Linked DNA regions of Homo sapiens: regions 2 and 3 are each linked to region 1. Evidence: fine-mapped expression QTL. A gene starts in region 1. Each other region holds a variant in brackets. All regions are shown on one strand. Distances are between the middles of the regions. Region 1 holds the start of TOPBP1 (DNA topoisomerase II binding protein 1). Region 2 overlaps TF (transferrin). Region 3 overlaps TOPBP1 (DNA topoisomerase II binding protein 1).

Region 1 (10,073 bases):
AGAAAAAATACAACAATAAAAAAACAAAATTTAAAAATACAGTATAACAAACGTTTACATAGTATTTACATAGCATCAGGTATTATAAGTAACCTAGTGATTATTTAAAGTACATGGGAGTGGCCAGGCGCAGTGACTTATGCCTGTAATCCCAGCACTTTGGGAGGCTGAGTCAGGTGGATCACGAGGTCAGGAGTTAAAGACCAGCCTGGCCAACAAGGTGAAACCCGTCTCCACTAAAAATGCAAAAATTAGCCGGGTGCGATGGCAGACGCCTGTAACCCCAGCTACTTGGGAGGCTGAGGCAGGAGAATCGCTTGAACCCCGGGGGTGGAGGTTGCAGTGAGCAGACATTGTGCCAACTGCACTCCAACCTGGACAACAGTGAGACTCCGTCTCAAAAAAAAGAAAAAAAAAGTACATGGGAGTATGTGCACAGGTTATATATAAGGTACTTGAGCATCTTCAGATTTTGTTATCTGTAGGGGGCCTTGGAATCAATCCTCCGTGGATACTAACCATTTCACCCTTTCCTGAAGGACTGCTGTTCAAGCAAACTTTAATGTGTACCAAAATCACCTGAAGGGCACAGATTGCTAGCCCTACCCCAAGTGCTCCTGACTTAATAAGTCTGAAGTGGAGCCCAAGAATTTTCATTCCCCCAAAATTCCCAGGAGATGCCGATGCTGCTGGTCCAGACACTACACATCAGAACCACTGCTTTATCCATTTTCCAGGAGTAGATACTAGAGACAGACCCTCTCTGCTTATCTGGAGACACAAGATGGGAGAACTTGCCCCCTAGTGGTGAACTCTTACTCTAAAGACAGGTCACTCCTCTGGTATCAAGTTCCGGCTGGGTAAAAGCTAAAGGGTGCATTTTCTTCATCTTCATTAGCAGCATCTATGAATCTCCTTCTCTTGTGAGGTCTCTACTTGGCCCAGAAATGCCAGGAATGGGCTCCCTCCCCGGTGTGGAACTTCACACAGAGATGGGCAGACAGCACGTGCCCAGGAGCAGTGTGGTGTGTCAGGAAAGGCACGGGCAAGTGACACAGTCCCTGAACTTCACTTTCCCCATCTCCATAACATGAGACAATGATACCCATCTATTATAGGGTTGCTGAAAAGAGTAAACGGGAATAGTGTGAGCAGGAGTCCCATGTTAACTGTAAAGTGCCCTAGAAATATTAATTGTTATTACAGATTCAGGTCAGATTTGCACCTTAACAATTAACTGTGGTTTCTTTTTTTTCCCACCTCTAGTGATTTTTGTTTTTTTGCTTTTAAGGCTTTCTTCACCCTTCCCCCAGCAATAGGCCTTTACCTTTGAGCCCCAGTGTTAATTGATTCTGACTCATTTCTGGTAAAAAAAAAAAAAAAAAAAAATTAATGATATTTATTAAAGCACAGTAAGACAGATTTTATTCCGGACCATCAGGATAGGTATAGCAACCATGGCAATGGGATTCTGAATTAGGAGAGAGAGAGTGGGCTCAACTCTAAATACACCATGGGCAAGTGGGAATTTATAGCCAAGGAACAAAAAGCTTGGGGTCACTGGATAAAAAATTACTAAGAAGGAACTTCAGGAGTAAAGGGGTTTCTTGCTGAAAATAGGTCAAGGTGATCAGACATCACCTTGGATGGTAGAGGATGAGGAACCTGATCAGATATTGAGGGTAGAGGGTTCTAACTGGATTTTCCAAGGAAATGCACAGATAAACCTACGAGAAGGTTGAGGAGTCTGACTAAAGTTTGGCCAAGCAAAGAATCTTTGTCACCTTCCATCGGTGTATTCAAAAACTTAAGACTCAAGCTGCTCATTACTATCTTTAGGCTCTAAAAAGAAAAGAAAAACAAAAACAATCAAGGGACATGGCATTATACTTTTACATTAGTAAATCCAAAGTCATTTTCTCAATCTCAGCAGTGAATAATAAAATGATCCTCATTAGTATAGTGGCTAGATTTTATAAAATAAGAAAAAATTTTTTTAAAAAAGAATAAAATGAAAAGAAGCAACAACGAATCAGTTTTCCGCTGGTTATCACTAAGGTTTGCAGGCCCATCTTATCCCCTCTCCCTTTGCTCTCTGCCATCTGAATCTTAGGTTCAGTCCCAGAATCTCCCCAGTACTGAGGCAGATGCAGAGAAAGAGAACGGCGATGTCCACTGAAGGGGAGGAGGAGGGGAGACCATTGAAGATCTTGACAAAGATCCCTTTGCATTAGCTGTGTAATAAGTCATCCTTTCTTCCCTTGCCATCTTGTGGCTGTGTTAGGCGGTGATTCTATTCCTGCTGTGTTGGAGGGAAACCACCCAGTCCGTAGTCAGAAGACCTGGATGCAGTATTAATTCTACCACCTACTAGCCGTGTGCCCTTGAACCCATCATTTAACTTCCTCCGTTTTTACATCTACAAAATGGAACTACCACTATTTGCCTCACGGAATTGTTTTGGATAATACCTTTTCCCGTGCATGCCTGGTATAAGACAGGTGTAAAATAAATATCTATTGAGGAAATCCTTTCTTTCCCTGGCTTTTTTAACAGTAAAGGAGTATTCCTGGCCTGTGGTCCTACCTCTTGAACCGACGGCGCTGGGCCTACTCGCAGCGGAGACTAGGCCCGCCCAGCAAAGCCCTAAACCCAAAGGGTCCGGCCCAAGCTTTCCCTGAAGCCCCACCGCCCACAGACTGCTCACCTCCACGTTTGACATTTCCGCTCTTCTGCTGCAGCTGCCGATGGCGTCACTTCCACCGGAAAAGGCAAGCGCGGCCGCGCGGTTGGCGCGAAAGTCGGTTCCCGTTCTGGGCAATTTCCGGGTTCTCCAGCGTTTGCTTTGGGGTAGGGGCGGCGCCGAGTCGGGGGAGGGGGCTGTGCGCCGGGCTGGCGCCCGACCCCAGCCACCGCCCTGCGGCCAGCGCGTCCCCCGACTCGCCGCCCGGAGACCCCGAGGCTCCAACGAGGTAAGTGAGGCGCGGAGTGGGGACACAGCTCCTCCCCAGCCCCAACTGGGGTTCGCGATGCCTTCTGTGGCCTTCAGGACCCTCTTTTCCTGTCCTGGTAACTGGCCCTGGAGCCGGCGGGTGGGCCTTTGACGCCGAGAGGACGTGGCTTCCGTGATCCCAGAGCCAGGCCTTTTCCTGGAGATGGGAACCGGAGCATCTAGCCTTATGCAGGGCCAAGACCATGCTAACTGGCTTCCATGTTTATATTTAAAATCTGTTTACTGAGGGATGAACGTACCTCGCAGGCCGTGGGTATCCGCAGGGACAGATACACTCTGTGTATCCTTAAAACAAGTGCAATTGAATGTCCATTGGCCTAAAGGGCTTAGAGCCTTCATAGCAGGGCCTTCCTCAGTGTATTCAATTCGGGTTAATTTTGCTGTCTGATTTGCAAGGATTGGTGTTGTCATCTTTTACCTTGGCTTTGTCCAAGTTCCAGGATTTCTTAGAAATGCCGTTGACGAATTCACGGGCAGAGCCAGAATGTCTGTCTTTAGGCATTCTTGTCTGCACAGAAAAATAGGTAGGTTAAACATGCAACTTTTTATCTAATGTGGTTTTGTTCTTGTTAATGGTTCCTTTATTTTGACAGTTCAGAAATGTCCAGAAATGACAAAGAACCGTTTTTTGTGAAGTTTTTAAAGTCTTCAGACAATTCCAAATGTTTTTTTAAAGCTCTCGAGGTAAGAGTTGAAAACATCTTAATACCGTGAATTCATTTTCTTGTTTTTAAGTGTTTTTGATTTGTTGGGCTTTATGTCTTAGAAGTAGATATTTCACTTTCATAATAATTTTATAGTCTACATTAATACAGATATATCATTATCACATATTTTTGAATTGATCTAAGTACATCATTATGTATTTCGGGGGGCTGGAAGTCTATTATCACATTGCTGTTTAATATGGCTGACCTACAGTTCTTGGAAATTAAGTTGCTTTCATTTGTCTCCTAGCCAGAGTGGTCCTTTGCGTGCTGTAGAAATTTGAGTCAGTTGTGTACTGGTCATACTTGAAAATTTTTTGGTTAATTGTTAAAAATTATGTTTTATTATGTACAGTATAATAATTGGATGATAGTAGGGGTGATGTAGATCCTTGCTTCTCACAGAACCCAGCAGTATCAGCATGGCCTGGAAGTTTCTTCGAAATGCAGAATCTTGGCCTCCAACCCAGACTTAGAATCTGCATTTCTAACAAGATCTTCAGTGTGCATTAAAGTTTGAGAAGCATTTGTAGCAGATTTTTTTAAACTTCATTCATTCAGCAAGTATTTATTGAAGTGTTCATGATTTGATAGGCACTTCTCTAGTACTTGGGATTTATCAGTGATGAGAACAGGCAAAGATTTCTGTTCTTTCAGAGCTTACATTCTAGCAGGAGGACATAGACACTAATCAGACATGATAAATTAGGAAGAGAAAAAAGCAAAACACGTTAAGGGGTTCCAGAGGATGTTTCTTGGGGTGGGAAGAGAAGGGGGTTATAATCTTAAATAGGGTGTGATCAGGGTAGGCTTTATGAAGAAAAAGATATTGAGTAAACGTGAAGGAGGTGAGATAGCCTTGCAGATATCTGGAGAAGAATGTTGCAGGCAGAGAGAGCAACCTTATACAGCCCCTGGGAAAGTGCCTGTAGTCTCTATCCAAGTTTAGTGTACTGTTGTGTAGTGAGTGAGGGATGGGGGAAGAGTACTAAGGAATGCGTTAGAGAATAATGGTAAAGAGGTCATGTAGGGCCTTGTGGGCCATTTTTCTCTCAGTGGAGAGCCATTGGAGGGTTGATAATCAGAAGAGTAAACATGATCTGACTTACAGTTTTAAAGGGATTACTGTATTTAACATAAGGACCTCAAAATTGGTTCAGAACATTTCTGAGTGCTTACTGGGTGTCAGGATATAGTAGCAAACAAGATACATAGAAACTTCCAGGGGAGAGAGACAAAAACTATATATATATATATAAATACGTATTTTTAAATAGAATAGACTAGAAGGGTAGAGGAAGGGTATTTGAGAAAGCCTGATTAGGATGGGCATCTCTGGGGAGGTGACATTTAAGCAGACCTGATTGAAGTGGGGGATTAAGTCAGGTGAAAACCTGGAAAAAAAGTATTCTGTGCTGCAAGATCAAGAGCAGAGCCTCTAAATGAGGTTATGGTTGGCTTGTTCCAGGGTTGGCAAGAAAGCGGGAGTGGCTGGAATAGAATAAGCAAGAGAGATGAGAAGTAGGAGGTAAAGGTGGAAAGATAGGCAGGAAACCAGACTGTGTTGTCTTGAAGGCTGTAGTAAGAAATGTGGATTTTATTCTGGGTGTGGTGTGAAGACATTAGGTTTTGAGCAGATAGTGACATGATCTGACTTGTGTTTTTGAAAAGATTATTAGCTGCTGTGTAGAGAACAGATTTAGGGCAAGGAAGGGAAAAAGAGACCACTTGGGAGCCTTCTGCAGAGGTCTAAGTGAGATGTGATGGTGGCTTTCAATAGGGAAAAGGCTGGATTTGAGATGGAATTTGAATAGGACCTAAATACAGGAGAGTAATTTCAGGTACATTCTTATTTTATTTTTTCTTTCAGTCCATAAAAGAATTCCAATCAGAAGAATATCTTCAGATTATTACAGAAGAAGAGGCATTGAAGATAAAGGAGAATGATAGATCACTTTATATCTGTGACCCTTTTAGTGGCGTTGTCTTTGATCACCTCAAAAAGGTTTGCTGACTTCTAGTGTGTACCTTTGGTAGTCTATTTTTTGGTTTATCTTTGCTTTAATGGACATACATTCTTTGCGGATTATAAAGTACTATGCAACTTATGAGTACATTGGAATTCTTTTGGTTTGGCAAGACCAGGATTGAAAGGCTAATTATGTTACAGTAGGCTTTTTTTGTTTGTTTGTTTGTTTTTGTTTTTGTTTTTTGGAGACAGAGTCTTGTTCTGTTGCCCAGGCTTTAGTGCAGTGGCACAAGCTCAGCCCACTGCAACTTCTGCTTCCTTGGTTCAAGTGATTCTTGTGCCTTAGCCTCCTGAGTAGCTGGGATTACAGATGTATATACACACCCGGCTGATTTTTTTATTTTTAGTAGAGAAAGGGTTTCTCGATGTTGGCCAGGCTGGGCTGGTCTTGAACTCCTGCACTCAAGTGATCCTCCCACCTCAGCCTCCCAAAATATTGGGCTTATAGATGTAAGCAGTAAGGCAGTTTTCAGTGAAAGGGGCTTTTGAAGTTTATTTCTTTTCTTTTCTTTTTTTTTTTCTTTTGTTATAGGGTCTCACTCTGTCGCCCAGGCTGGAGTGCAGTGACGTGATCTCAGCTCACTGCAACCTCCGCCTCCTGGGTTCAAGCAATTCTCTTGCCTCAGCCTCCCTAGAGACTGGGACTGCAGGTGCCCGCCACTGCACCCGACTAATTTTTGTATTTTTAGTAGAGACGGGGTTTCACCATGTTGGCCAGGCTGGTCTCGAACTCCTGACCTCAGGTGATCCACCCCCGCTCGGCCTCCTCTGAAGTGCTGGCATTACAGGCGTGAGCCACTGTGCCTGGCCTGAAGTTTATTTCTTTTGATAGCTTGCATTGTTTGATTTGCTTTTGTGTGTGAGTGTTTAATGTATAGTATCTCTGAGAAATTATATAGTCATCTTTATTTTTTTCTTGTAATGATTTGCTGATTTCTCTACAGTGGTCATCAACTTTGGTAAAGAATTGGTGAATGTTACAAAATGTAATTTTGTAAGACTGGTGGTCTTTTCCTTCTTAACTCATTTAAACTTTTCTCTTTTTTGTAGCTTGGCTGCAGAATTGTTGGTCCTCAAGTAGTCATATTTTGTATGCACCACCAGCGATGTGTCCCAAGAGCCGAACATCCAGTTTATAATATGGTTATGTCTGATGTAACCATATCTTGTACAAGTCTGGAAAAAGAAAAAAGGGTAGATATTGATCTCATGATGATTGATCAATTTATATATCTATCTCTTATTCTTAATTTTTCACTGCATAGAAGATAGCTTAAAAGACTTTCCGCTTATTGTTCGTGACTTTTAACAAAGTTCAGTATACAACCACAGTGTGTATATATGTATACATGTACATTTTTTAAGTAAATTGAATATAGTAGAATTTGTTTTGTTGAAAACTGGCTAATTGAAATTTTTTGTTTTAATTTAAAAGGACACTCATTTTTTAATCACTTACATTTTTCCACTATAGGTGGACAGTCTTTAAAAAAAAGGATTCTAAATCGTTTGAATCAGGGAGGTGGAGGTTGCAGTGAGCCAACATCACGCCACTGCACTGCAGCCTGGGTGACAGAGCAAGATTTCGTTTTGGAAAAAAAAAAAAAAAAGCATTCTAAGAGAGAGCTATAGAAATACATATATATATTTGGGACAGGGTCTTACTGTCACCCACGCTGGAGTGCAGTGGCACAATCACAACTCACTGCAACCTTGATTTCCTGGGCTCAAGTAATCTTCATGCCTCAGCCTCCCGAGTAGCTGGAATTACAGGCATGCACCACCAAGCCTGGCTAAAAATAAATATTTATATATTATATAGATATAATTTATGTTGTTAAAAATACACATGTATATTTATATAGAAGCAAAGATTAAGATTTATACATCCTTTGTATAATAGTTTAATACATTCATGGAGTTGAAAGGGATAAATATAGGAAAATAATATTTTAAAAATATAATTCATACTTATCTCCCAAAAAATAATTTGGTTAATTATTTAACTTTATAATGTTATGTAACACTTATGTATTCAAACTGTCAACAGCAAAATGTATTTATGAGATAGTGTATAAAAGTGGAAGCAATATTGTTTGCTTCAGCATTAATGTGTTCTCTTTTGGGGCTGCAGGAAGAAGTTCATAAATATGTACAAATGATGGGCGGACGAGTATACAGAGACCTTAATGTATCAGTAACTCACCTTATTGCAGGAGAAGTTGGTAGCAAAAAATATTTAGTTGCTGCAAACCTGAAGAAACCTATTTTGCTTCCCTCTTGGATAAAAACACTTTGGGAGAAGTCACAAGAGAAGTAAGAAAGACATTTTTATATTTTCTAGATTTGAAAAAATGATGCATTCAATCATTTTTGGCATGTGATATACTCTTTGGACTTACTATTCAGGGAAAAAAATAGTGTCATTACTCTTTTCTCCAGCGAAAACGGAAGAGCAGAATCTACAAGCTCTTATTACCAAGATATAAGTTGACAGGCATAGAATGGGCCAAGGGTTTAGCATTAGCTACAGAGTAGGAAATGCTTTGGTGATAAAGTTCTCAGCTGTAAATATTTCTGAAATAATTGAGAAAACGAGTTTGGCAATTCTGTAGCTTTTATGTTGCATTATCCTTCAACACCATTCCCATATGTTAAGATAGATAATAAATTAGTCATTTTGGCAGTTGCATTCCTTCCAAAAGATGGCATATGTAAGGTTGAATATAAACATATGCAAGTCATCAGCTGAGATGTGATCATTTAATAAATGCTAATTGAGCCCATTTTACGTATCTGACTTGAGGTAGGCATTAGGTATATGTAGTAAGCAAAACAAGATAGTCACTTCCCTCATGGAGCTTAGAGCCTATTTCAAGGGGCACACTTCAGTTTCCCCTGCAACTAGATAAACAACCACAAGACCAAACACCACAGAATTGTATTGGCATACGAATTATATCGGCACTTTTCTGGGCTTGTTTTCAACACCATCCAGCATATCCCAAATATGTCTCCATGTCAGCAACTCTCATTCCCAATGTGATTACTTCATCAGCACACCTCCCTAGCATGGCAACAGAATAATGATATTTTTGTTGGTATTTTGCCAAAAATCATTGCTTTTACTTGTATAGAATAATGGAAAGATTAAAAAGTTCATTTATCTAATAGGCAACCAAATTACCTTTGGGTTTTTAAGTAGAGATTCAGACTTATCATTTTGGAAAATATACTATGACCAGCAAGGGCTAGAGTTAAGGAAATATATATTTTTCCCTTAAAATGGTTTTGAGAGACTGTATCTGAAACAATTACTTTGTTTTAGAGACATGTTATTGAACTAGGTGAACAATTAGTGTAATTCTGTTTTGGTGGTTCTCCTTTGTAAAAAAAAGATTATAAATCCTAAAAAATGAGGGAAGCAATAGTGATATTTGTGTTGTTTTTCATTATTCTTCTGGTAAATTTAATATGTTCTTTTTTAACCATTTGATTCCCACAGAAAAATAACTAGATATACTGATATAAACATGGAAGATTTCAAGTGTCCTATTTTTCTTGGTTGCATAATCTGTGTGACTGGCTTATGTGGCTTAGACAGGAAAGAAGTTCAGCAACTCACAGTTAAGCATGGAGGTCAATACATGGGACAATTGAAAATGAATGAATGTACACACCTCATTGTGCAAGAACCAAAAGGTAAAACTGTGTTTCACAAAGGGACAAATGAAACATTTTCTCTAGTATTTAATATTTTATTTTTATTTATTTATTTATTTATTTTGAGACAGAGTCTTGCTCTATTGCCCAGGCTGGAGGGCAGTGGCACAATCTCAGCTCACTGCAACCTCTGCCTCCCTTGATCAAGCGATTCTCCCAACTCAGCTTCCCGAGTAGCGGGATTACAGGCACCTGCCACCACGCCTGAATAACTTTTTATTTTTAGTAGAGACGGGCTTTCACCATGTTGGCCAGACTGGTCTCTAACTGACCTCAATTGATCTTCCCACCTCAACCTCCCAAAGTCCTGGGATTACAGGCATGAGCCACCGTGCCCAGCCACTAATATTTAATATTTTAAAATCTTTACAGAACAGCTTTTACTTCTGACATGTCATTAATCTAGTTTGATACTGTTTTCTCTAACATCTTGCAAAGATGTTTTCTCTAACATCTTGCAAAGTTTTAACTGGAAGACACACCTTGCGGCACATGAGGCAGTAAAAAATGAAAAAGACATTACGAACAAGAAAAATTCTTTAAAATTGCTATTAAGTTTGGTGTTACATAACATTATTCTGGATAATTTTTTATCAGCACT
Region 2 (10,073 bases), 98 kb before region 1:
AATCATTTCTTCCACACATTCGCTCAGAGTCTGCCTGGTAATGTGTATTAAATTCTTTGTGTTTTAGCTTGAAGGCACCTGTCACCAGACCAGTTTCAGGATTCATGGGTCAGGGCTCAAACCAATTTTTAATAGATTTTCAAACTTTTTCAGACACGCCCAAATAGCAGCTTCAGAAAGTACTTTACGTATGGTAGTCCCCTCTTATCCTCAAGGGATATGTTCCAAGACCCCCAGTCTTGGAACCTGAAACCCTATACAATGTTTATTTCCTATACATACAAGCCTATGATAAAGTTTATAAATTAGGCACAGTAAGAGATTAACAACAACAATAATAAAACAATTATAACATACTATAATAAAAGTTATGTTAATGTGCTCTCTCTCTCTCTCAAAATATCTTAACATTTTTGGACCACGGTTGACTGTAGGTATAACCCAAGAAAGCGAAACCTCACATAAAGGGGGACTACTGCACCTCATCTTCTGTTTCACAACTGTTAGAGAGCTACTCTCAAGTTCCTGTAAGTCCTTTCTTTCAAGTTAGTTCTGTTAGTTCCTTTTGATTTGGCACAACAAATCCAATGACATAAGAACAATTAACTGTTTGCAAATGCACAAACGTCATCTATTACTGGGAGATTCTTCAGAGTTGGCTCTACTTTCCCAAGGGAAACATAGTCTCCTGCCTGTAGTTTTACAAGGTCCTTTTTATGATCGATCATCTGTAAACAACCATCAAACTCTTCAGCATCTCTAGGACATAATCACTTCTGTCCATTTCCATCTTCAAATAAATCAGCTTTTGTTTCTGCTTCATTTCTGTAGCATCCCATTGTCACATTTTAGCCACCGATAAGAATTCTACCTCTGGGATGTGGTTTTTCAGTATTAAAGTATCCACCTTCCTCCCAGTTCTTTAATTTAATTTCACAGCAAACTAATGGGACTCTCACTTCTGCCAGTCTTGTAATCCACACATCTGTAATTGTTCCAGCCCCTGTAGGTTCAGTGAGTCTGTATTCATGAACTTGCTGCGTGTTGCAGAAAGTGGAGCACTTTCATACAATAAAAGCTGAATATTTCCACCTAGCTAGCTTCACAGTTTCCAGAAAACAAAGCTGTCACACAATCCAGTACTATGCTCTTTTGAAATGTGTTCCATTTTATAATTATAAGCCAGAATAAACAGATTGTGTTGAAGACTACTGATTTCATACACTTAATTCATGACATTTTGGTAGATCTGATCCATGATTTCCAGAACAGCTGCCATCAGTGTTGGTCTCAACCCAGAAGTACACCCTTTGCTTCTGGTTTTTATTTTTTTATTTTTTATTTTTTTGAGATGGTGTCTCACTATGTTTCCCAGGCTGGACTCAAACTCCTGGGCTCAAGCAATCCTCCTACCTTAGCCTCCTGAGTAGCTGGTACTACAGCTGCATGCCACAGTGGGCAGCCCATTTTTTACTTTTAAAGACTGATCCACTGAAGTCTGGGGTGAAGAGGAGCCAAGCAGGCATCCATGAGAAAAACAAAGAAGCTCAAAGCTTAATTCTAGAACATGGGCCACAGGTAAATATCCAATGTAGTCATCTTCCTCCTCCAGTCTGGGAATCCTTTCTGCCATCCCAGTAATACCAGTAATGATGTTTCTATGCGAGATGATGACTCCCTTTGGAAGTCCTGTGTGTCTACTCATGAACATGATTACTGCAATAACCGAGGGCACTGGTCACTTTGGGATCTGTTTTCCACACTCACCTTCACTTTCTACTGCAGCCATGATGTCCATGATAACAACCTTGGGAAATTGGGACAGGTCAGTGGCTTCCCATTGACAGTGATGATGTGTCACAGGTGTGGGACCAAATAAACTATGTCTTTCAACTTTGTTTCCAATAATTCTTTACTAGCAATGAGATTAGTTACTTTTGTTTCATTAATCCATGGGCCCTGGACCTCCTAAAGTAGCATATAATTTTATGAACTAAATGTTATGCATGAAACATACCTATCCAGCAATCATCCACTTGGACGTGGTCTCACAGAACATGGCAATGTTGGTCTTTGGTTTCTGCCCCAACATCTGTAAGCTATTTCCAACATTAAAGGCTCAAACGATGACATCTTCATAGGAGAGCAAATTATGATGTCCAAGAAGAACCTTTTAAAATATGTTTACATTTGGTTGTACTTAATCTTCATTTAAGATTTCACATGTTCCCAAGAGTCTTTTGCTCTTCCTTTTTTTTACAGACGTAAAAAACTTTATCTATTGTATCACATCCAGAGTATAATATTGAAGCCCAGCCACTCAAACTGCTAACAGATTTGTATAGACTCAGGTTTTGAATTTGTAGGCTTTGCTTTAACTTAGTTTGGTTTTTCTTGTCTTGACTCAGACAAAAATTAAAATGGAATATATGTTAAAATAGCATAAAGTGATATCTATAAATTGTATGAAATATAAAATAATGAGCTTGATGGTCCCTTTTTGCTTCATGGTAGATAGTTCTGAAGATACATGGTTATTCATAAGTGCTCAAAAAGTAGAATTAACATATTTCAGCAAAAATCTGTTGACAATGGCAGGAAGTACCTTTATAATATGCATCTTTGTTTCAATATATTTGCTGATTTATTATAAAGGATCCAACTCAAGAATAGCCAAATGGAAGAGACACAGAGGGCAAGAAATGTGGGGAGGAGGGGGAGTGGAGCTTGGCACTTCATGTTCTCTCTAGGCAAACCATACTCCCCCATCTCGATGTGTGCACTAACACAGAAGCTCCAGATTAGGTTTTACAAGAATGATTTATGATATGGGAAAAGCTTACTAGATACTGTGAGTGAGTAAAAGGTAGCAAGCAACCTACATGAAATGATCCCAATAAGGGAATTTTCTCTGAATTACATGATTATAAGTACTTTTTATTTCTTCTTTATATCATTCAGGATTTTAAAAATTCTCTGTAAGCCAACATGGAATATTCTTTCTTAAAAAAAAAATGTTGTTAGAGACAAGGTCCTGCTAAGTTGCTAGCCCTGAACTCCTGGGCTCAAGCAATCCTCCTGCCTCAGCTTTCGAAGTAGCTGGGACTACAGGTGCATGCCACCATGCCAGGCTAGGATACTCTTTTGATCAACAAAGCAAATTTGTACCTGATTGGATCCTACCATGTACTCAGGATCTTATCTCAGTGATCGTGGCACACCACTGGTCTCAGGACACCCACACCATGGTCCAGCCTCCCTAAGCAGGCACTGCTCAGCCTGCCCTTTCACCATACACTCATACAAGGAGGAAACTGAGCCCTGTGGGCACCCTTCAGATCCACAAGCTCAAAGATTCTGAACCTCCGGTGGGGCTGTGCTCACATAGTCAGGGCAAGGTTCCTGGGAGCCAGGTTTTTGCATCATTCCCAGGAACACTCCCTAGCTCAGTCTTGGGGGCCAGCAGGCAGCAATGACAGGGACGCTGCCCTAGGAAGGCTGGAGTGACATACCATGATCTTGGCGATGCAGTCTTCGGTGGTCTCTGCTGATACACACTCTATTTTCCCTACACTGTTAACACTCCACTCATCACACTTGAGCCTCTCGTGGTGGCTCAGCGCACACCACTTCACAGGCTTGCATTCATCTGTTGGGGCTTCTGGGCCTATGGCATAAAAAAAGAACAAAGATCAGAAGCGGCCCTAGCTGTTGCCTGGTGTTTGTCAGCACTACTCACTGTCTTCATGCAAATGCTGGGATTTGCCAGCAATAAACAAACAGACCCCATTCAAGGAATTAATCACCTTAGAAAGCAAAGTCAATGCACAATCTCTTGGTTGACTTCTCATTTAAATTTAGTTTTTTATGTCTTCCGAGAAGCCAACTTTCCTCTCCAGCCTCTGGGCACTATATGACCTCTGGCTGTTTTTTTCCTTCTTGTTTTTCAGATAGCACTTAACTACTGGAGGTGTTCTTATTTATATGTTCATTGTTTATTGTCAGGTTTTCTGCAGGAGAACAGAAGCTCCAACACAGAAAGGGCCCTGCCTGTCTTGTTCACCAGGGCATCCTCAGGGTTAGGGCAATGCTAGCACATGGTCAGCATAATAAATGTCTGATGAATAAATGTACATCTGCTCATCTTTCAGACTGAGCTCAAGAGTCACTTCCTCAAGGAAGCTTTGCCTTAACGCCAAGTCCAGGGCCTATTTTTCTTTGTTTTGCAGTCTCATAGGGCCATGGTATTTTGTTGTCATATTTTTCCCCTTTTAAACATATCTCTTACTTTGTAATTCATCATCCAATAGCATGACTATTCATTAAACATTTATCTTCTCCCCAGTTTGAAATTTCCAGGACAACAGAATCAAATATATATTTGTCATGCCATCCTATGTCCAGCACCTAGCAGAGCATATGGCTAGATGTTCAATAAATGTCTGCTGAATAAATGAATGGTCAAGCAAAACCACAGTGACTCAGTGAAATCCAGGACTGGGATCAACCTCTCTTAGAGCACCTCTTCATTATGGTACATGTTGACTGGCTGGAGATGTGCAATATATAGCAATTTTGTTCTATTTCACTTACTCTGTGATAAGCTAATTGCCTTCACAGAGTAGGTAAGGCAGTCCTGATTGATGCAAAGGAAATACTGGAACCAACCCACGTCATTTTAAATGTGGATTTCCTGTAAAGCCCATGGTGACATCAAGGCCATCTCATAATGACTAACGCCATTCAGCATCAGTCTAACACTGGGCTCACAGACAGGTCAGAAAAAGGAGCATCAGGAGAGGCGTGCAGGTCCCTGAAAAGACTCAATCTCTGGCCCCTGTGCTCACCAGGTTTCCCAAGTGCTTGTGGTCACCTGGTTCTTCCCAGGTACTCACATGTGCCTTCCCGTAGATTCCGGATGGCAGTGACATACTCATAGCCCAGGTACATCTTGGCATCCATCCTGGGGGGGACTTTTAAAAACCCGTGGGCAGAGTCCTTAAACAGCAGGTCCTTCCCATGAGGAGAGCTGAATAGTTGGAATTCTTTTGATTTGTCTTTGCCAAAATGTTCCTGTTCATAGAAAAACAGAATAGTGGATGGCAACACAGAAGAAAGGAGGCTGAGAAATGGGACTGAAGAGAAAAGAAATCTCTGCAGGAAACAACATGAAAAAGTTCAAGATGCCAGGAGAGAGGGCAGTCGGACCTGCTCCTGCTCACCCAGCACTTCCTCTGCCTGTAGCCCTCGTGGGTCCGCGATTT[G/C]CCTGAACCTGCTTCTGTGCCTGTCTCCCGGAACGGGTTGAGACATCGGTGAGAACAAGAAACGTGGCTAATCCAGAGGCTGCCCTGTGTGGTTACCAGTCAAACTCTCAGTGGACAGATGGGACGGCTCGGCAAGAGGAAGCTGGCTGAGCCCAAATCACACAGCTCTTGGGAAGTAAAGCCGCTGTGCAGGCAGCCCCCTCACAGCCGGGCTGAGGGGCATGGGGAGAGAGACCATTTCCTTCTGGGAGGGTCATGGAAAGCCTCCTTGGGGAGGGGTTTAGCTTTGGGCCTTGAAGTTTAGGTAGAAAGGAATGCAACAGAGCAATACAGAGCCTCTTCAGGTGTCACCAGCCAGAAAGGCAAGGGCGGCAGACGGTAGCACCACAGCAGGCTCCCTGCTGCTCTGTGGGGAGTCCCAGCTTTTAGAGAACTTAGTGACATGTGGCATGGCTCCCACTGTATCCTGAACACACAGACTTCCAGAGTGACAAGATGGCCAGGAGGAAAACCCCCAAATCCAAGCAGGGAGCACTAAGCTGGAGGGGAGGATGGCAGGTGGGGATACCTGGGCCTGGTTGAGAAGCTCCCAGATCAAGTCCTCCTTGCCGCCCATACTTCGGGCCACGACGGTATGAGAAGGGACCTGGGCCAAGTGGCAGTCCTTGTATTCATCTACCGGCTTCCGGGTGTTGTCCAGGCAAAGCAGCTCATACTGGTCCCTGTCAGCCTTGTTTGCCAAGTTCTCTGGGGAGGGAAAGCCCAGGTGAGCTTAACACAGGAGAGCCATGGGCTGTGGTGCCCATCCTTGAAATTCAATTGATCATAGAAAGTATGAGCTGAGAGGTCTGGAGTGAGCACTGAAGGCCAGAGAACATGCGGGAGAATGACTCGCTCAAGAGCCCACAGCCAGGTAAAGGCTTCTGATGCCCATGTAGCAGTGATTGCTCCTCATTCCACCATGAGCCTGATCTTAGCAGCACCAACCCCCAGTCTTTGGTTATGGCAACACTACCCCAGAGGCAGAGGCACCGTGTGGAGAGATTGAATGATGGAAAGAGGCCCAGGAATCCAGATGGGGACCCCGTAGGTACCTAACTCTGCACAGGTGGAAACCCAGGCAATGATAAAGGAGAAATACAGTATGCTCATTTCCAATTACTGAGCATGAAAAAGGGAACACAGAAAAAGAACACCCACTACTTGGAGTGGCCCTGGTGGATTCTTGTCCCATTCTTACCAAATATAGTCGAGTGCTTGACAAAGGCCACATCCCCAGCACCATCCTTCAGACACCTGGGTCAAAGAAACACATCAGCAGGGCTCCTGCAGGGCAGGCCCTTCTCCTGCACCTGGAGAGTCTGATCACACTGTCCAGCACTCACACTAGGATAGAGCCTGGTGCAGCCCCGTAGCTGAAGCAACACCATGGTGTGCAGACCTCCAGCGTAGTGCTGAGATGGGGGAATGAGCTCACACGAGATAAAAAGCCCTCATAACCCAAAGAAGCAAAATGCAACTGAAGATATTTTCATGTGAAAAGAGCTTTTAAACTTCTGGAATAGAAGATAATGGTATAGTGTCTCCTGAGGGTGAAAATGTGCCTTTGGCTGGTTGTAAAACTTTAGGATATAATCAAGGTAAAAAGAGAAAGCAAGAAATCAGCTTCCCAGATAGAGACGGTGATGGGGGCAGGAGACAGGCAGTGTGCTGAGCAGGTAACACTGCTGAGATTGAGGGAAGAGGGCCAGTCCCTGGACAGTGGGCCCAGACACTAGAGGCATGATTGTCCTTTCAGGCTCTGCCCGATCCACCGAGAGGAGACACTGACCAGGCTTGAGGGCTCTGGGGAGAAAGGAAGGGTCCCCAGGAAAAGGACCTACTTGTCAGGGTCAGATGAAAGGGAACATGGGCTGGCTTGGCCTAGGAGTCCCAGGTTGTGCTTCTGACTCACTGGGAGGGGATTAGGCCACCTCGATGCCCCTGTAGGCAGGCAGGGCTCGGCTTTGGACCAGCAAAGAACTCTCACCCTGAGGACATTTGGCACTTTGGCCACCATGGAGCAGCAGACATCTCACTCACTTGAAGGCTCCCGAGTAGCCGAAGTATTGGTTAAGGGTGGAGCAGCCACACCCTGGACACAGTTGACACAGCTGGGGGAAGTCCGTCCCATCCGCACAAGGGGCACAGCTGCCCGAGAAGAAATTGGCCACTGCTGCTCAGCACAGAGAAATGGACAACAGAGCATGAGTGAGGCTGGCCACAGCCAATGGCATCACCCCACCCAGGCCCATCAGGGAACAGAGGGGACTAAAACCAAACCAGCACATGCAGCCCCAGCTTGCCCTTATGCTAACTCATCAAGATCAAGGATTTCTAATAGGAACAAGTTGACCTCTGTCTGGCCACCATCCATCAGAGGAAACAGGCCTATGCTTCCCACTAACCAAGGCCTATCTCGGGTCTTTCTCAGAGCACCTTCTCCCTGCTTTGTCAGAGGCTGGAACAGCTCAGAGAGAGGTCCCCTCTGGGATCCATGCCCCAGACATGAGAACTGCTTAAGAGAGGTGCAGGGCTCCAGAGAAACCTCCAGGAAAGAAATCCAGAGAAGTGGACAAGAGAACCACCATCGCCTAGACTGAAACCCTCTGCCGAGCCTTGCGCCCTTTCCTCACTCATCAGAACAGCCTCTGCTGGGGTTTTGGAAGCTCAGAGCAGAAAAAAGCTCAGCTCCACCTCCCAAGTGCTGCTGGTGCAGCAGACCTGCCAGTTTAAAGTCTGTTAACCTCTTTCCCCCACCTGAGTTCATCCCACATGTCTGCTGATGGTGACTGTCTAGTGCAGCCTGTGTGGGCATCTGGAGCAGAGGCAGCTGCTCGAGGGCACCCAGACTCCTGCCAGCTTACCTTTCTCAAGAGGTTTACGTGGCTCAGGTAAGTCACAGTAAAGTAAGCCTATGGGGATGTTCCACCCAGCGGACCTGCCTAGACCCGTGTGGCAGGACTTCTTGCCTCGAAGCTGGTTCATCTGGAAGCCACTATCCTTCTTCACCACAGCAACAGCATAATAGAAAGTCTGTGGATCTGCAAAGGCACAGTGTGAATGGAAGGCCCTCAGCCTGGTGCAGGGAAACATGGCTCATCACCACCGGACTCTTGAGGAGGGAGGGGAGCGGAGAGGCCATGCTTTTACTGGACTGGGCGATAAGGAGTGGGGAATCAGGAAAACCTTCCTAGGGTTGCAGGGGAGAGAGAAGACCATAGAAGGAATATTTATAATATTACCCCTCCAGGCAAACAGGGGCAAGAAGGCCACACGCACATGTGTCCTGAATGCTTTGCCTCCCCTGGCCCTGCAGCGTGTCTGCCTACACCTACCAACCTCAGCCACCAGGAAACTGGAGCTGTGGTAACAGAGGCCCATCAAAGTATTTCATGTCCCCTGGCACAGGCCCAGAGACAGTCAGGTTGATCTCAGAAGACTTGCAGGGCTGCTGGCCTCTGAGTGTGTGCTCCAGAGTGACCCCTCCTGTGTGAGTGGTACCTATGGCTCCAGAGGCCTCCAGGGACCCTAGACATATCAGTAGACCGCAGTAGCCTTCAGGTCAAGCTGCACACAGCCTGCTGTGTTTCTCTGATAAGCATATGCCCCTGGCCCAGGGCTCAGTTTTAGGAGCACCAGTCCTCAGCCAGCCCAAAGCCCCCAGAGGCCTTGATGTGTGGCTGTGGCAGCTGACAGGGCCCCTCATTCTCTACTCACTCTCCAAAGATGAATGTTCATTATATCTGATATCCAAAACCTGCCTGTAAAACACAGCACTCAGCATATAGAATAAGGATGACAACTCCTTCCTGGGGTCCCAGGGAGAACTTACCCTCTTTTGACCCATAGAACTCTGCCACCACAGGCTTCAGGTTATTGGGAGCCAGGTAAGCATCATACACCAAACCTGCATCCAGTGTCACAGCATCCGCTTCGTTTGCCTGAAAGAGAACAGGCCAGTCCTGGATGAAGCCTTGACTTCCAAGGAAGGCCCACCTCAACCCACACAAGTAGAGAGTGGCTACCAGGACTCCACGGACCCAGGGCCAGAACTTGACTAGACCACGCACAGCCCTGCTGGCTTCAGTTGACTCTGTCTCCCTCGCAAGGGCACTTAGCCACCACATTCCTATTCCTTCTGCATAGAGGGAGTGATGGATTGTGTTTCTCTTTTCCCCGGTGAGGTGCCCAGCTCCTGGCCAAAAATCCTACGTGACTTTACCGTAGGCAATTACGAAGGCTTAACCTGGCAGGCTCCGTGGGAGAAAGCCGCCCTCGCCACCCCAGACTCAGAGCACAGCCAGTGCAATGCAGTCTCTGGAGGGGACTCTGCTGTCAAGGACACAGCTCTCTTGGGCTGGCCACGCTCTTCTTACACCTGTTTTCATTCCTAGCCCATGACCTTTGCTCAGAGCCCTCTTTATTTTGAGACTTCCTTTGAGGTCTTCCTCAGGTGCTTCTGTGGAGATTTTTTTTCTGGGGGAAGATGGGAACCTTGAAAACATTCGTCTTCACTCTGACTCAGTACTCAATGCTCTTCCTTCCTGTCCTGGGTCCATAAAACTGCATGACCCTTTTGCTGAGGGATTGGGCACTTTCTCTGGGTTTAGCTTCTTGGTGATACTATGTACTGAATGATCAAAAGCTTGATTATTATTTCCATTTTTGCTCATCTCTGGTATAATTGTCTACTCCAACACATGGGCAGCTCATCTCTCTTTCTCTCTCAGCTCCATTTTACAAGTGAGAAATATGAGGCACAGAAAG
Region 3 (10,073 bases), 56 kb after region 1:
ACCTTCAGCTCATGATTAGTAGAAGATTAGTCTCCTGTTATTCTCTTCTATTCCAGCCCTTTCAGTTTTATTCTATTTGTGTTTTTTATTATAATGAACATATTATGTAAACATTTAGCTTGGAAGTTAAATATGAGAAGAGTATAAAAATCTAGGTACCTCTAAAGGCTTTAAAAATACCCTTTAAAATGTTGGAATATAAAGCAGAAATCGATTCCAGGAGTCCAAGGAGAAACATTTATCCAAAGGTCCTTTAGTTTTCTTGACTGTTTGCTTTCATGTACATTAAATACCTATGTTAGACACTGTGGTAAATTTAAGCATTTGCTATATGGTGGGCTTACTACTCTCATATTCAGAATTGGCCTGTGTTGTGTAATTTGAATGGGGTAAGAAAAATCTTCTGACACCAGAGTGCCCAAAAGGCCATCAGGAGTCAGCAGGCATGACACATAATCATAAGGATTAGATTTCATAATCATAATCTATGAAGGATTTCAACTGGGATGATACAGAAATAAGGGGAGGCCAACACTCAAAGTCAGCTTTGTGATTTTGCTGCTGTGCTTGGAGATTGCTCAGGATTTAATAGAATGCCTAAAACACAAATGTGAAGCCGTTATAGAGCAGAGGGCATACTGATTAGTATCCACGATTTTATCTAAGGTTTTCACTCAACGTGATGTTTTTGACATTCATTCAAGTTGTAGTGTATACCAGTAGTTCATTCCTTTTTATTGCTGAGTAGTATTTCTTTGTCTGAATATACCATAGTTGATTCATTTTCCTATTGATGGACCCTTGGACTCCTGGAATCAGAAATGTTCCAATAAGCACTTCCCTTGAGCATCACATAAGTGCTCGAAAGTTTAGGATTTTGTACCATTTCTAACTTTTGGATTTGAGATGCTCAATCTGTACATTATTGGTGGGAAGTGTAAAATGGTAAAAATCCCTTTGACAAAAGGCCTGGCAGCTTCTTAAAAAACGAAATATTTACTTATTCTATTACACAGCAATTCTGTCCTATTTACCCAGGAAAAATGAAAAAATATGTCCATAAAAAAGCCTGTATATTTTTAGTAGCTGTTTGTCATCTTGGTTATCATTAGTAAAGCTACTAAAAATATACAGGGATTTTTACCATTTTACACTTTCCACCAATAATATACAGATTGAGCATCCCAAATCCAAAAGTTAGAAATGGTACAAAATCGTAAACATTTCTGATTTCTGGGTTTCGGTTGCTCAACCAGTAAATATAAATATTCCAAAATCTGAAATACTTCTGATTCTAAGCACTTCAGATAAGGGATACTCAATCTGTGTAAGCCTTCTGGTTATTCCATATTTTGCCAACATTTAGTGTTGGCAGTCATTTGATTTTTAGCCATGCGGTAGGTTTATAGTGGGAGCACATTGTAATTTGTACAGAGTGTTTGTAATTTGTATTTCCCTGATGACTAATGACATCGAGCACTTTTTCTTTCATGGTCTCTTTGTTTGTTTGTTTGTTTGTTGGTGTGTGTGTGTGTATTTAATATTTTTTTCTAAAAAGTTATTGTTTTAGCTTTTATGTTTAGCTCTATGACCTATTACAAATTAATTTTTCTTAATGCTCTGAGGTATGGACTAGGGCTGGTTTTTTTCCATATAGATATCTAGGTGTTCTAGCACCATTTGTTGAACAGATTTTCCTTTCCCACAAAAGCTTTGGCATCTTGATAAAAAATCAAATGATCGTATTTTTGTGAGTCTCTATTCTGTTTCATTATCTACTTGTTGATACCTTTCCTACTGTGTCTTGATTACTGTAGCTGTACAGCAACTTTTGAAGCTAGTATTAAGACTACAATTTTAGTTGTCTTTTTCAAGGTTATTTAGCTGTTCCATGTCCTTTGCATTTCCATATGGACTTTAGACTCAGCTTGTTAGTTTCTACAAAAAAAAAAAAAAAAAAAAGGCCTAGAGTGGTTAAGATTAGGATTGCACTGACTCTATAGACCAACTTGAGGACAGTAAACATCTTTACAGTGTTGAGCATTCTATTCCATAAACCTAGAATGTCTCTATTTAGGTCTTCTTTAATTTCTCTCAGCAACATTTTGTGGTTTTTCAGTAAGGGAACTTACCTATCTTTTGTTAAATTTATTCCTATTTTGTGATGCTATTGTAAATAAAAATTTCTAGATTTACATTTAGATTTTTTTCTACAATTTGCTGCCAATCCAAAAGAATATAAATTTTGTATATTATTATTTATTTATTTTGAGGCAAGGTCTCACTCTGTTGCCCAGGCTGGAGTGCAGTGGCGTGATCTTGGCTTACTGCAACCTCTGCCTCCCAGGCCCAGGAGATCCACCTCAGCCTCCCAAGTAGCTAGGACTACAGCCATGTGCCACCATGCCCAGCTAATTTTTTTTTTGGCAAGGGGAAGGGGTAGAGATAGGGTTTCACCAGGTTGCCCAGGCTGGTCTCAAGCAATCCACCTGCCTCGGCCTCCCAAAGTACTGGGATTACAGGTGTGAGCCACTGTGCCTTGCCTGTCAGTCTTTTATACCCTATGATCTTAATAAAATTCACTTAGTACAATTAGTACCTTAGGCTTTCCTACATAAGCAATCATTTTATCTGCAAAGAGATTTGTAGATTTTCCCTTCTTTATGCCTTTTATTTCTTGTTGTCTTATGTGGCTAGGACCTCAAGTATGCTGCTGAATAGAAGTGGTGAGATTGGGCCTCCTTGTCTTTATTCCCTAGCCTAGGTGGAAAGTGTTCAATATTTCACCAGCTATAGGGTCTTCATAGATTTTTTTTTCCAGATTGAGGAAGAGTCCTTTTATTCCTAGTTTACTAAGATTTCTTTTTCATCATTAATTGGGGTTAACTTTTATAAAATGTCTTTTTCTACTTCTGTTGGAGTTGTTATAAGGTTTTTCTCTTTCCTTCTATTACTATGGGGAATTACATTTTCAAATGTTAAGTTTCATGTATCAGTCCCACTTGATCACGCCATATTAATCTTTGTATATATTGCTAGATTTAGTTGAGTAAAAATTTTTAAAATTGTTTTCAGGGTGGGATATTGGTATGTAATTCTCATTGTTTTGTAATGTTTTTGTCATCTTTTGGTATTAGCGTTTTGCTGGCATCACAAACAAGTTGGGAAGTTCTCCCTTGATTTTCTCGAAGAGTTTGTGTAAGATGCCTCTTTCTTCCTTGAATGTTTGAAGGTCTGGAGTTTTCTTTTTTTTTTTTTTGAGACACGGTCTGGCTCTGTTGCCCACACTGGAGTGCAATGGCTTGATCTCAGCTCACTGCAATCTCCACTTCCTGTGCTCAAATGATCCTTCCACCTCAGCCTCCTGGGTAGCTGGGACTACAAGCGCACGCCACCAGTCTTAGCTAATTTTTGTATTTTTGGTAGAGACGGGGTTTCACCATGCTGGGCTTAAGTGATCCCCACGGCTTCCCAAAGTCCTAGGATTATAGGCATGAGCCACCTGGACTGGAGTTTTCTTTTTTTGTATTTTTATTTTTTAGATGGAGTCTTGCTCTGTCGCCCAGCCTGGAGTGCAGTGGGGCAATATCAGCTCACTGCAACCTCCACCTCCTAGGTTCAAGTGATTCTCCTGCCTCAGTCTCCCAAGTAGCTGGGATTACAGGCATGAGCCAACACACCTGGCTAATTTTTGTATTTTTAGTAGAAACGGGGTTTTAACCATGTTGTCCAGGCTGACCTGAGGCTGACCTCAGGTGATCCGCCCACCTTGGCCTCCCAAAGTGCTGAGATTACAGGCGTGAGCCACTGCACCCGGCCTGGAGTTTTCTTTATATGTGGTTTTTTGTAACGAATTTTCTTTACTAGATACAGCGCTTTTCCTATTTTCTGTTTCATTTTATGTCAGTTTTTAATAACTGGTGTTTTTCAAATAATATATCCATTTCATCTTATCAAATTTGTTGGCATAAAGTTCTTCATAATATTCTTATTATCCTTTTAGTGTAATAAGTTTATTCCTGGCTGGGCACGGTAGCACACGCCTGTAATCTCAACAGTTTAGGAGGCTGAGGTGGGCAGATCACTTGAGGTCAGGGGTTCGAGACCAGCCTGGCCAACATAGCGAAACCCTGTCTCTACTAAAAATACAAAAAAATTAGCGGGGTGTGGTGGCGTGTGCCTGTAGTCCCAGCCACTCGGGAGGCTGAGGCAGGAGAATCGCTTGAACCTGGGAGGCAGAGGTTGCAGTGAGACGAGAT[C/T]ACGCCACTGCACTCCAGCTTGGGCAACAGAGCAAGACTCCGTTTCAAAATAAATAAATAAATAAATAAATAAATAAGTTTATTCCTGATATTGTCAACTTGTGTTCATTTATAACTGGCTTATTTAGGAGTCTGTTGTTTAGTTCCTAAATATAAGAGGATTTTTTTTTCTATCTTTTTAATTTGTGATTGCCCATTGAATTCCATTGTAATCACAGAAAATACTCTATAATTTTAATTCTTTTAAAGTTATTGAGACTTGTTTTATCACCCAGCTTCATCTATCTTAATGAACATATCATATATGTGAAAGATTTTATATTCTGCAGCTGTTGGGTGTTGTGTTCTAAAAATATCAAATAGGTTAATATGGTTGATAATGTTGATCAGATTTTCTGTGTATGTGGGTTTTTTTGTTTGTTTAGTTATATCAATTACTGATACTAAAATCTCCAGCTGTTTGTGGAATTGTCTGTTTTTTCTCTTTAATTTTGTCAGCTTTTACCCCATTTATTTCAAACTTTGTTGCTAGTTGTTTACCCATATATAATTTCTTTGATTTTCACATATTGATCCTTTGTTATAACACGTATCTCTGGGCTTACTCCGCCTTGAATGTACATTATCTGAGGTTAATATAGCCTTTTCCTGTTTACTCTGTGTCATGATATCTCTTTGCATGGTTTTTAATTTTAAACTTGTCTGTGTCATATATTTAAAATGGCTTTCTTGTAGATAGGATATAGTTGGGCCTTGCTTTTTTTTTCTTTGGAGTGTTTAGTCCATCATGTAATTATTGATATGATTGGATTTAGGGATGGGGTTTTTTGCTGTTTGTTTTCTATTTGTTCTTTGTCCTTGTTCTTCTTTGTCTTTCTTGGCTTTTTTTGTATTAGTTTAATATTTTTAGAATTTTATTTTATCCATTGGCCTTCTAAAGCAAAAATATATTTACCTTTTGGAGGGAGAAGTGTTTATATGTAGATTACAAATTACTTCCTGAGGCCGGGCATGGTGGCTCACGCCTGTAATCCCAGCACTTTGGGAGGCCAAGGTGGGCAGATCACCTGAGGTCAGGATTTCGAGACCAGCCTGGCCAATATGGTGAAACCGTGTCTCTACTAAAAATACAAAAATTAGCTGGGTGTCGTGGCGCACACCTGTAATCCCAGCTGCTTGGGAGGCTGAGGCAGGAGAATCACTTGAACCTGTGAGGCGGAGGCTGCAGTGAGCCAAGATCGTGCCTCTGCACTCCAGCCTAGGTGACAAGAGCGAAACTCTGTCTCAAAAAAAAAAAAAAAAAAAATGAAAAAAGGTAGATCTCTTGCATCCAAGTTGGTTCATTTGCTTCCCCTGTCCTTTATACCAGGGGTCAGTAAACTATAGCCACCTGGCCAAACCTGGCCCACTGCCTATTTTATAAATAAAGGTTTGTTGGAAAACAGCCATACTCATTCATTTATGTATTTTCTATGGCTGCTTTTGCACTATAATGGCAGAGTTAAGTAGTTTCAGCACAAATCATCTATCCCACAAAATCTAAAATGTTTCTGTCTGAGCCTTTACAGAAAGTGTGCTGACCTCTGCTTTATGCAGTAGTTGTCATATATTTTACATCTACATCTTATAGCCCCAAATAAGATTTTACTTTAAATAGGTTTTGCTTTTAACAATTCTGTGCATTTTGAGGAAACTAAAATAAAAAATGGTATTTTATAATTACCCTCATGTATACCAGTTTGAGTGTCAGTTTTCCCTGAAGATCTGAGTTTCCATCTGATAACATTTTCCTTCAGCCTGAAGAACTAACTTTAGTTTGGAGTGCAGGTTGATTGGGGATCAATTCTAGCTTTCTGTTGTATGAAATGTCTATTCTACCTTCATTGTTGAAGGACAGTTTTGCAGGATACAGAATTATAGATTGACAGGTTTTTTTCTTCTATTAAAGACTTCACTGTCTGCTGGCCTCCATTGTTTCTGTTGAGAAATCAGTGATGGTCATTTGAATTGTTCCCTTGTATTCAATGTGTCATTTTTGAGACCAGCCACCAGCCTGGGCAACACAGCAAGACCCTTATCTCCCCCTAAAAAAGAAACTCTAGGTTCTATTGTTCCTTTGCTCCTCCAAAGAGTACTGTGTTGTTTAACAGGCAGTTTACTTCATACACTGTGTTTGCGTCCCCAGCCCCCCATTTGCTTGGTTCGTTTATTCTCCAGGCTCTATGGTTGCTTTTAATATATTTTGGTCAGAATTTGTAGCTGTTATCCATGGAAGAATTGAATCAAAAGGCACTTACTTGGTATTTTGTGGTGATTCATTTTCAGGTTGCCCAGTCTGCCATATTGCTAGAAAATTAAGTTTTATTACACTTATAATAAGGAGGAAAAGATCCATTTCTATGTTGGGAAATGGTTGTGGGGGGAAAATGCAAGGGTTTTGGAGTCAGATCAGTTATGAAATTTGGCTTTGCTACCTGCTAGTTATGTGACATTGGTTGTTTTCATTTAACCTTTTTTATTTTATCTCAAAAATGGGGATTAAAAACACCGATATGAAATGTTTGTAAGATCTGAGCTAGTCCCACTCTACCTGAACCATACACGTATTTCTTTGATAAAAGGTGAGACTTTGTCCCACAGGGTCCATTTTGTTTAATTTGCTGGAACCTAGGAATGAATATGCGTTTTCCTTTAAGTTTGTCAGATTCATCCCTGAGAGGTCTGAGATTTAAAGAAAAAATCTATTACCAGATCACGTAAATGTTTGAAATCATTTTAAAAAATCACTTATTTTTCCTTTTATAGGAATCACCTCCTCATGTAGAAAATTACTGTCTACCAGAAGCTATTTCATTTATTCAGAATAATAAGGAACTTGGGACTGGATTATCACAAAAGAGGAAAGCTCCTACAGAAAAAAATAAAATCAAACGACCTAGAGTACACTAATCGCATCTACCCTTTAGTTACCAAACATTAAATGTTTTTAAAAATTGAAAGCCTGAATGTGACTGTGATAGATTTGGGTAGTAATTTAAAGATGAGTACCTGAAGAATTCTGCTTCAGAGTATAATGATGACCCTTCTTGAGTTTTGAACACCTGAAATTGTAATCACTGAAATATTAACTGTTTCTTAATAAAAAGTTACCTGAAATAACAACAAAATACAACTCCTCAGCTAGCTTGCTGTTAAACCACATTGAAGTCTGTTAAAAGATATTTATTTTTCTTGTAAATATCTGAAGCTGTAGCTTAGTGGAAATTTTAGCAAGGTAATGGATTTTGCTTTAAAATGTCTGCCTTACAAATTCATAACAACAAGATTTGTCAGTCAGCATTTATTCATGTTTTCCCTGATTTTTATCTTCTCACCATTTTACCTCTTTTAACAGGAGCCTGAGCACAAGGTTTAATGAGGAAGCTGGGGCTATAAATATGTGTGTATATATGTATATGTATGTTTGTACAAATCTCCATGATGTTTGCCAAGTTTGAATGCGCAAAACTTGGAAAATGTGACAATAAAGAATAAAAGTAGTAACTCAAATTAGTATTAAGATGTGTTTACATAGATAAATTTTTTAAAAGAGCACCCTGGCATCTGTTCTTCTGTTGAAGCAACAAAACATTTATGTAACGTAAAAAATGAATTGCAGGGGCCTGGGTGCGGTGGCTCGTGCCTGTAATCCCAGCACTTTGGGAGGCTGAGGCAGGCGGATCGTCTGAGGTCGGGAGTTTGAGACCAGCCTGACCAACATGGAGAAACCTCATCTGTACTAAAAATACAAAAAATTAGCCCAGTGTGGTGGCACATGCCTGTAATCCCAGCTACTCAGGAGGCTGAGGCAGGAGAATCGCTTGAACCCGGGAGGCGGAGGTTGCGGTGAGCTGAGATCGCGCCATTGCACTCCAGCCTGGGCAACAAGAGCGAAACTCCATCTCAAAAAAAAAAAAAAAAAGAATTGCAGGCCAGGCACGGTGGCTCATGCTTGTAATCCCACCACTTTGGGAGGCCAAGGTGGGTGGACTGCTTGAACCCAGAAGTTCAAGACCAGCCTGGACAACATGGCGAAACCCCATCTCTGCAAAAAATAGCAAAAAATTAGCCGGGCATGCTGTTTGATGCTTGTAGTCCCAGCTACTTGGGAGGCTGAGGCATGAGAATTACTTGAACTCAGGAGGCAGAGGTTGCAGTGAGCTGAAATCATGCCACTGCAACTCCAGCCTGGGTGACAGAATGAGACCCTGTCTCAAAAAAAATAAATGAATTGCTTAACATTTCTGATATTTGTTATTTAGAATATTGCCCTATTAGATTAAAACATACTGTTATTGGAACTCTGTATTGCATTAGCCTTTATTATGCTAAACCTAAACACCTAATACTACATGCGTTACCAGAATTCTCTATAAATACACCTAATTTCATTTTAAGGACAAACTAGAATCCGTTAGGAATGTAATTTTGATGTAAACCGTTCAATTCCAAATGACTTTTTGAAAGGCAGATTCAAACAGTGAAGGAGAGAGTGCTCAACTTGGACACAAAATCCCTTAAATTTTCATCAGATTTTCTTCAAAATGGAGTTGAGGGTATCCCTGCTGCTAGAGGATTGGTCCTACAGGGTTTTCAGCTTTGAGCTAGTTCACAGCTTAGGACAATACAAATTCTACACAGAGAAATAGGTAGCATTATGATGTAAACTGTCCCCCTCCCACCAAACAAAAACCACATGGGCCTGTCTTTATCAGAGCTATTTTATTTTAGCTGAATCATTTTGTAGATTGTAGTACGTTTCCCTGAATTTTATTACTCAGAATCCTTTGAAATAGGCCAGGCACAGTGGCTCACACTTGTAATCCCAGCACTTTGGGAGGCCAAGGTGGGCAGATTACTTTAGGTCAGGAGTTCGAGACCAGCCTGGCCAACATGACGAAACTCCATCTCTACTAAAAATACCAAAATTAGCCAGGTGTGCCGGCACGTGCCTGTAATCCCAGCTACATGGGAGGCTGAGGCAGGAGAATCACTTGAACCAGGAGGTGGAGGTTGCAGTGAGCCGAGATCGCACCACTGCACTCTAGCCTGGGTGACAGAGTGAGACTCCATCTCAAAAAAAAAAAAAAAAAAAATTCTTTGAAATAGTTACTTTTTAAATTACCTAATATACCACTTTCTTTTCTGCCAAAATTATGAATGGTTTTCCAGTTCAAACTTAGACACACAGTTTACCATTTAAGGCTCCAGGTCTCAGTTTCTCCTCCTAACTTTCCAGCATCTGCCCATACTCTGTATAAGCCACTTGAACTCTGGCTTTGGCTGTTAATCTGTAAATGTCCTAATGCCAGCAACAATATCCTCTTATATACAAATAATTCCAAGCATAGGTAGTCTTCTTGTTTAAAAAGGGGAGGGGGCAGAACTTGCCTTGATTAGATTAGTATGAGTTTCTTTTCTGAATGGCTACGATATTTTAATCTGTGATATTTAAATTATCACCTTATATCCCTCCACGAATTTTCCTGTGCATTAGTCTGATCTCACCAACATTCGTTAATTCAACAGGTAGGAATCCTCAACCTGTGCCTAGGATTCAGCAACAAACCACCTGGAACACATGGTCCCTTAGCACTTGAAGAGGTAGGAATCCTTACTGTAAATACAGTACTCAATTATACTCAGATTTAGTATTTACACTGTTAAGGACTGAGCTTGTCCCCCTAAAATTCACAGGTTAAAGCCTAACCTGCTATGTGACTGTAGACAGAGCCTTTATAAGGGGATTAAATGAGGTCATAAGAATGAGTCCCT

The links. PIP is the estimated chance that this variant, and not a neighbour inherited with it, causes the effect.
Region 2: its variant is fine-mapped to the expression of TOPBP1 in esophagus mucosa (GTEx, PIP above 0.99).
Region 3: its variant is fine-mapped to the expression of TOPBP1 in whole blood (TOPMed, PIP above 0.99).

What each region holds. Positions count from the first base shown.
Region 1 is chr3:133,654,668-133,664,740 of GRCh38, reverse strand. TOPBP1 (DNA topoisomerase II binding protein 1) reads left to right here and starts at 2,800. Exons shown (of 28, transcript NM_007027.4): 1 at 2,800-2,972; 2 at 3,607-3,697; 3 at 5,591-5,725; 4 at 6,800-6,943; 5 at 7,884-8,065; 6 at 9,255-9,451. The coding sequence starts at 3,614. It overlaps LOC124909487, which reads right to left and starts at 3,515. Exons shown (of 3, transcript XM_047449438.1): 1 at 3,395-3,515; 2 at 2,708-3,228; 3 at 1,403-1,842. The coding sequence starts at 3,515. The coding sequence ends at 1,693. It also overlaps a transcript of TF not described here. RefSeq lists an enhancer at 2,374-2,443 and a silencer at 2,844-3,013.
Region 2 is chr3:133,752,769-133,762,841 of GRCh38, reverse strand. TF (transferrin) reads right to left here. Exons shown (of 17, transcript NM_001063.4): 3 at 9,139-9,247; 4 at 8,171-8,347; 5 at 7,347-7,479; 6 at 6,505-6,560; 7 at 5,833-6,011; 8 at 4,896-5,073; 9 at 3,513-3,667. It also overlaps the pseudogene ACSL3P1. Among named protein-coding and RNA genes, the nearest start is that of TF, 11 kb to the right of the region's middle. The variant G/C (reference allele first, on the strand shown) is at 5,265.
Region 3 is chr3:133,598,385-133,608,457 of GRCh38, reverse strand. It overlaps TOPBP1 (DNA topoisomerase II binding protein 1), which reads left to right. Exons shown (of 28, transcript NM_007027.4): 28 at 7,065-8,220. The coding sequence ends at 7,208. It overlaps LOC124909437 (a long non-coding RNA gene), which reads left to right and starts at 9,381. Exons shown (of 2, transcript XR_007096110.1): 1 at 9,381-9,902; 2 at 9,996-10,073. The variant C/T (reference allele first, on the strand shown) is at 4,260.